Regions from separate parts of the Homo sapiens genome. Here region 2 is reported to be linked to region 1. Evidence: microRNA targets listed by miRTarBase, many of them from high-throughput screens and not tested one by one. Region 1 holds a microRNA gene; the other region holds the end of a gene's coding sequence.

Evidence for each region. The annotated mature microRNA hsa-miR-4666a-5p reads AUACAUGUCAGAUUGUAUGCC and lies in region 1 at 2,253-2,273, opposite strand. An mRNA with a match to its seed (bases 2 to 7 or 8) in the 3' UTR can be bound and repressed. Matches are read on the target gene's strand: a 7mer-m8 pairs with bases 2 to 8, a 7mer-A1 pairs with bases 2 to 7 and ends in A, and an 8mer does both.
Region 2: the mRNA of LANCL1 is a reported target of hsa-miR-4666a-5p. Seed matches in the 3' UTR shown: 7mer-A1 at 186-192.

Annotation. Positions count from the first base shown.
Region 1 is chr1:228,460,818-228,464,355 of GRCh38, reverse strand. It overlaps MIR4666A (microRNA 4666a), which reads right to left and starts at 2,282; the gene lies at 2,204-2,282. It also overlaps the pseudogene H2BC27P.
Region 2 is chr2:210,431,678-210,434,677 of GRCh38, forward strand. It overlaps LANCL1 (LanC like glutathione S-transferase 1), which reads right to left. Exons shown (of 10, transcript NM_006055.3): 10 at 1-2,886. The coding sequence ends at 2,810. All of the region lies in intron 2 of LANCL1-AS1 (LANCL1 antisense RNA 1), which reads left to right. Among named protein-coding and RNA genes, the nearest start is that of LANCL1, 44 kb to the right of the region's middle.

The DNA.
Region 1 (3,538 bases):
CCTGGCGCACTACAAACAAGCGCTCCACCATCACGTCCCGCGAAGTGCAGACGGCCGTGCGCCTGCTGCTGCCCGGCGAGCTGGCCAAGCACGCCGTGTCCGAGGGCACTAAGGCTGTCACCAAGTACACCAGCTCCAAGTGAGGTGCGTCCCGGCGCCCCGAACCCAAAGGCTCTTTTCAGAGCCACCTCCAAGCTCCAAAAGGAGCGTGCCACCTGGTCTGGTTGTGACCTGTGATTCAATTGGAGTAATGAGGGAAAGTAGACTGAGCCGTGGGGGCGCAAGTCTTAGAGACAAAATTAGGCTTCTTGTTTGTAACGGCATATTTCCCTTAGAAAGGCTGCGTTCGTCTTGTGTTGGCCACAGGCAAAGTCAGAGAGGGGGCAGTACAGGCGATTGCGCCATGGATCCCATCCAAAGATCTGTGTGTGGCTTACGCCCTGCGCGCGAGGAGCGTGGGTCACCTCCGGGAAGATCTTGTGCCACGTCCCCGCCCCCAGTGCCTCCTGGCGGCTGAGACTGGAGGACGTGCTCACTGAGGTCCGGGGTTGGAGGTGAGGGGGTTATCGCGCCGTCTGGGCGGAGGCGCTTGGGTCCGTTCTTCTCCCGCCCCTTTCCTCCCTCCTTAGCCACAACTAGACACTGTGAGCTTCTAGCCAAAACCATTTCAGCAGCGTTGCGCCTAAGCAGCTCTTTATGCCACGCCTTCCTGCTTGAAACATCAAAACAGCAGGCTCACAGATCTCCTTATCACTCAGCTAAAATTTCCCCAATTAAGGGATTCTCGTATTTTACCCCCAAAATGTGTGTGTGTGTGTGTGTACGCATATTACACAGTGAAAGATTATTTTGAATAATGCAAATATAGTGCTTTTTAAAAAAAACTCCAGCAAATCATAGGAAAAATAAGTATGATCTCTGGATGACACATTAAAAACTAAGGCATGCAGGCCTGACTGGGGCCCAGGCTGTCCTCCCCCTAAAAATACCCCATACCGGTGACACCCCAACCACGAATACCTGAGAGCTACCCACCCTCTAAGCAAAAACGTTGCCTGGAATTAGAATTCGGTTTCCAGGCTCAGTTCCCACTGGTAGAAGATGCACTCTACCCAGGCTCAGTTCCCACTGCACACTCCCAACACAATGACAGCCACGCATTTATCAACATTTAACCTCTCTGGCCTCATAAAGTAAATCCATTTTCTTGGGTTAGTTTCTTCTTAAAGGGAGTTTTCTTTCCTCCAAATTCTTTTTGTAAATAGGCTTTATTTTTTAGAGCACTTTTTCAGAGCAATATGCTTTTTTATTAGTAGTACGTAATAGTTGTACATATTTGGGGGGTACAAATATTTTGATATACGCATAGGCTTAACAATCAAACCAGGGCAACTGGGACATCCGTCATCATATTCACACCCTCTTTAGGTCGAGATCATTCCAATTCCTCTCCTCCAGCAATACAACTAATTATTGTTAACTACAGTCACCCTACTTTTCTAACCAATACTAGATGTTACCATTTCTTCTAAGCATATTTTTGTACCCATTAATCAACTTCATCTCCTCCTTTCCCCACCACTCTTCCCAGCTTCTGGTAACCAGCAATCAACTTTCTACCTCCATGAGATGCATGTTCTTAGCTCCCACGTATGAGTGAGATCATGCAGTATTTGTCTTTCTGTGCCTGATTTGTTTTACTTAACATAATGTCCTCCAGTTCCATCCATGTTGCTGATGACGGGATTTCATTTTTTTTAATGGCCAAATAGTATTCGAATGTGTAAATGTACCACATATTCTTTATCCATATATCTACTGATGGGCACTAAGGTTGACTTTCTATCTTGGCTATTATAAATAGTGCTGCAATGAACATGAGACCGCAGACATCTCTTTGATATACTGATTTCCTTTCTTTTGGATATATACCCAGCAATGGGGTTGCTGGATCATATGGTAAGTCTGTTTTTAGTTTTTTAAAGAATGCCCATATTTGTCTCTATAGTGGCTGTACTGATTTACATTCTTACCAGCAGTGTACAAGCATCCCCTTTCCCTGCGTTCTCACCAACATTTGTTATTTTTTGTTTTTTAATCAAAGTTGGTTTAATTGGAGATGATTCCTTCCAAATTATTTTATTTACTGCATAATAATTAGCAAATCTGACTTGAAATTTCCATCTGAGATGGGTGAGGGGCAATCTCTTAAATACATGTCAGATTGTATGCCAGTCTGGAGGGATTTTGTAGGCATACAATCTGACATGTATTTAAGTGATTGTCACTCACCCATCTCAGATAGGTGAGATGAAGCTTAGTTTAAAAATTTGGCTTAGTTTAAGAATCTTGGCATGTCTCTCCAACCCAGAAAATGCTTCCATTTTGTTGAGTGAGTCCTAATTCCCTTAGTCTCTGTGGATTCTCACATATTTGATGTGCACTGCCTTCATTTATCATTAACATTTGTCTTTCTCTGTTGTAACACTATAATTAGAGAAATGGGTTCTGGACACGATTGCTCTGAATTTTCTCCATTATAAAATCTTAGTAGCAAGGATCCTGTTTTACCTTCTTTGCCTCTCCCTTAACAGATCCCTGTCCTAGGAGAGACGGACAAATCCCATTCATTCTGGGCCTGGGGGTGCTAATGTAGCAGGAAAAGACAGCCTGTTTCTACTTCAAGTTTGTGCCAGGGGAATCAGAAGGACTGAGACATGAATTGACTGACGTTTGACATTATCCATCACAAAATGCCTTCTTAGAGAATTACACTTGGAAAATGTCATGAAATGTTCATCTTGTGCCTTGATTTGATCTCTGGCACTAACCAGTGTTGTTGCCTTGTGCTAACACAATCATTCACTCTCTCTACTGGAGACTGGTTTCACTTTATTAAACCTATGTTTTAAGTTCATTAAGGTGGAGAACTATATGGGTCTGTGAGAGTAGTTTCACAGCTGCAAATGTTTAAGGTATTGACTTCCAATCCATGCTGGTAGGAGGCCGAGGGCTTGGATGTTCCAGTCATTGGGCACCTGTTTCATAGTGGAGAGGACTGGATTCAACAGCTTTTCATACAAATCCTATATTTCTTGACAGTACTAAGGGTGTTGACAAGTCCCACTTACTTTTGATGATGGATCACTGTTTAATATTTGGATTATAACTAGGGATGCAAAGAATTGAATAAAGTGCCTATGACAAAATTGTCATTCCTGTGTATTTTTTGTAAATTTTTTTTGGAGCATATATCAAAACAAAACAGAATGGAAATGACCCCGTGCACTGCTAGCATTGTAACCATATGGAAATGATCCCATGCTGTGCTAACACTGTAACAATATGAACACTGCATGTGTGCAGTCATTGAGGTGGAAAGGAGAGGAGAGAAGAGAGTGGGTGCACCATCCAGCTCATTAAGAGTCAGTTTCACTAAAAGTTTATCTGTTTGATAACATCAAATTATTTATGTTTTGAACAATTGTGTACTGTCGAGATGATTTTTCTTAACAGTGAGAGACTACCCAGAGGTATG
Region 2 (3,000 bases), not on the chromosome of region 1:
ATAAAGAAAGTAACCCTAGATCCACTTTTACCTAAAACTCTACCTACCATGAAGGTTTTTGATGCCAAATAATTGGAACTGACATCAAAGATGAAAAGAGAGCCACATGACTCAGGATTAAAGACTGACAACTCAGGCCACACCGCCGTCCATGGTATCTATGGAAATAGGATAATGTTAACTTTTTACATGATGAAAAGTTAACTATTTGCAATTTCTAAATTACTATAGAAACAGAAACATGTGACAGGATAAATGAACACTGCTTGATGACCTTTGACAACCTTTGAAGGTTTTATTACCTAGTCCCTGTATAGAGATAAGAGATGATGGTATTGAGTTTTCTAGGAACCAACTTCTGGGAAAGATTTTTAAAGAAGAAAAATATCTGAGAGAAAAATACAAACTAGAACTGAAACAATGATGCCACTTCCTTTTAAAACTAAGAAGCCTAGTATAAAAGTTTCTTTAGTTACTACCATGTTGTTAGGGGATTGTCTCAGCGTTGTAGGCTTTGCCTGAATTTAAAATCCCATCAAAACTTTTTTGCTCTTAAGCATAAATACAACAAATAGCATACATATAAAATTGTGCCAGTTTAGTAAGTTTTGAAAAGCTTAAAAAAAAACCAAACTCTAATTGTGTTTGTGTGGATGAATTTGCTAACTGATGACAGTAGCTAACCCATTTATGCTGGGGGTTGCAATTTTTTGTGTGAAAAATCAGACCTTGGCAATGACTTTGAGCAGTAGGATGTAAATGACTCCCACAAGCTTAGCATTCCAATAATGGAACACTAGGCATAAATGGGTTAACAAGAATCTTATTTGAAATGTTCTTCTCCCTGCCTTGAAATCTTCCTGGGGTTAAGCATTGCTATCACGATGCTTGGAGAACTGTGATCAAGTCTTCTCTGGCTCAGAGAAACTGTTATTTTTCCCTTGCTTAGTAACGCAGCTAAAAGCATAGGCACAGTAGAGTAAGACATTTAACTAAACCAAATGAGCTTTATTCTTTCAAGCTGAACACCCCAGGCAAAGGCAAATTAGCTTTGCTGTGCACTACTTTTACTTCTTACTGTAAGTGCTGATATCGCTGATTGAAAACTTTCACAAGAAAGGCAGAGCATGCACATGCTTACCAGCAGCACTTCAGCAATCTGAGAGGCACAAGGTAGTGCCAACTTACACAAGTGACAGAAGGAGGAAGCTGATCCTGGAAACTGAGCAGTGGGCTGCTTTTTAAATCCTACTGCCAGTGGCCTTTAAAAGGTCAGTTTCCAATAATATTAGCTCTTTTGGTGCTAAACAGGAGATAATAGGAGACTGCTACCTGCAGGAACCAGTACACACTCAGTGGGGATTTGGTTTGAAGTTCCAATAAAAATAGCATGTTTTTGTGACCAAGAGAGCTGTGAAATAGGCACATTTAAAATACTTAGACCCTGTTATTTTAAAGCTACAATTTTTTTTTGCAAAATCAGTTGCAAAGAGACAAAACAAGCCAGGCAAAGGCAGTAATAGAAAGAGTAGAAGCTGATGAGTCAAAACACTTGAACAGAATTTGAAGCACCAGAGAGTCTTTATCTACTACGGAAAACCTGATTCTGTGGTCTCAGAAACTGATGAATTGTTAAGTCTAGGATACGCAAAGATGCATTTGTTCTAAGCATGAACTCTGGATAATACCTCCTCAATAAAAAGCATTTCTATTAAATGCTTAGTTTAGTGTTTTTGTTCAAGTTATTGGTTAGATAGTATTCCCTTTCTCATCTCCCCTTTTTAAACAGAAGTAGAATACTGTACAATTTAGTGAAAAGACCAAAGTTCAGATAAATTGATAGGAAGGAAAATATTTTATGGCTTATACCAAAGAGTCAGCACTAATGCATAGTCACTGTAAAAACCCAAGTTAAAGTTTAGAAAGTCAGTCAGAGTGGACTGAAATCCTAGGTTAAAGCATATTCATACATAGAAAATTGGCTTCCTGATCTTATTTGAATACTGAAAAACACACATATTTAAATAAAGAGTTCCAAAAAACTCAGATTATTTTAGAGAAAACACAGACTGTTATTGTTAGCTTATCTTAAACTAACCTTCAACTCAGAATTTTCACAATGATCATCATGTTTTATAAGTTTTTGATTAAAAATGTTGGCTTCTGAAGGCTGTATGCCTTACCGACAAAAACAGGCCAATCTGAAAGTATGTTTACCTCTAGTCCAAATAGGCATCAAGAATTTAAAAAATGATATTTAGGTACCAAGTCCAGATTGTAACTCTTGGAATTTTTCTCCTGGAAGCATTTAGTTATATTTCTGTCCCCTTTCAAAATGAACCACCTAGAGAAAAGCAAGTCAGAAAATTGTCTGCCCTCCAGTTGGAGGAAAAATATTAAAGAGAAGTGAAGTGTAATACCCAATAATAGTCACATATTTATCTTTATCTGTATTGAGTTTCTTTTAAACATTTTTAGAACAGTAACAGATGGTTATATTCATAAACTTAAATAAGATTTCCTCCAAGTTCTGGAATATATGTATACAATCTCAAAACACTGTACATATCACTCACTCTCCCTTTAGGAAGAAATGGAAATTAAAGTTAAAAGACTTCCTTGGATACTTCTAAGTAAAAGTAAATGATAATGGAAGGGAACTGAATGAAAGATAAATTCTGAAAAAAGCTAACAAAATCAAGTCCACAGTTTGACTCTTTGTTTCCTTGGAAAGCAACGGAAGCACTTAGCTTGGGTTTGAATATACAGAAAGGGTCATGCAGTGAGTTGCAGGTGGCATGCTATCCTTTCAGAGTTCAAATGCAGGGAACCTGGCTTTTGTGGGGACTAGCAGGTCAGCCAGGAAATATATTGTTCCAGCCATTCCTGAAGAAAGAGAAAGAGGCAAAAGTTATTATACCAAATGACTCCATTTCATAGGATGGTTCTTTTTCCCCCATATCTTTATTGACAAAAAAAGTCACAGCATTTCAGTCTATT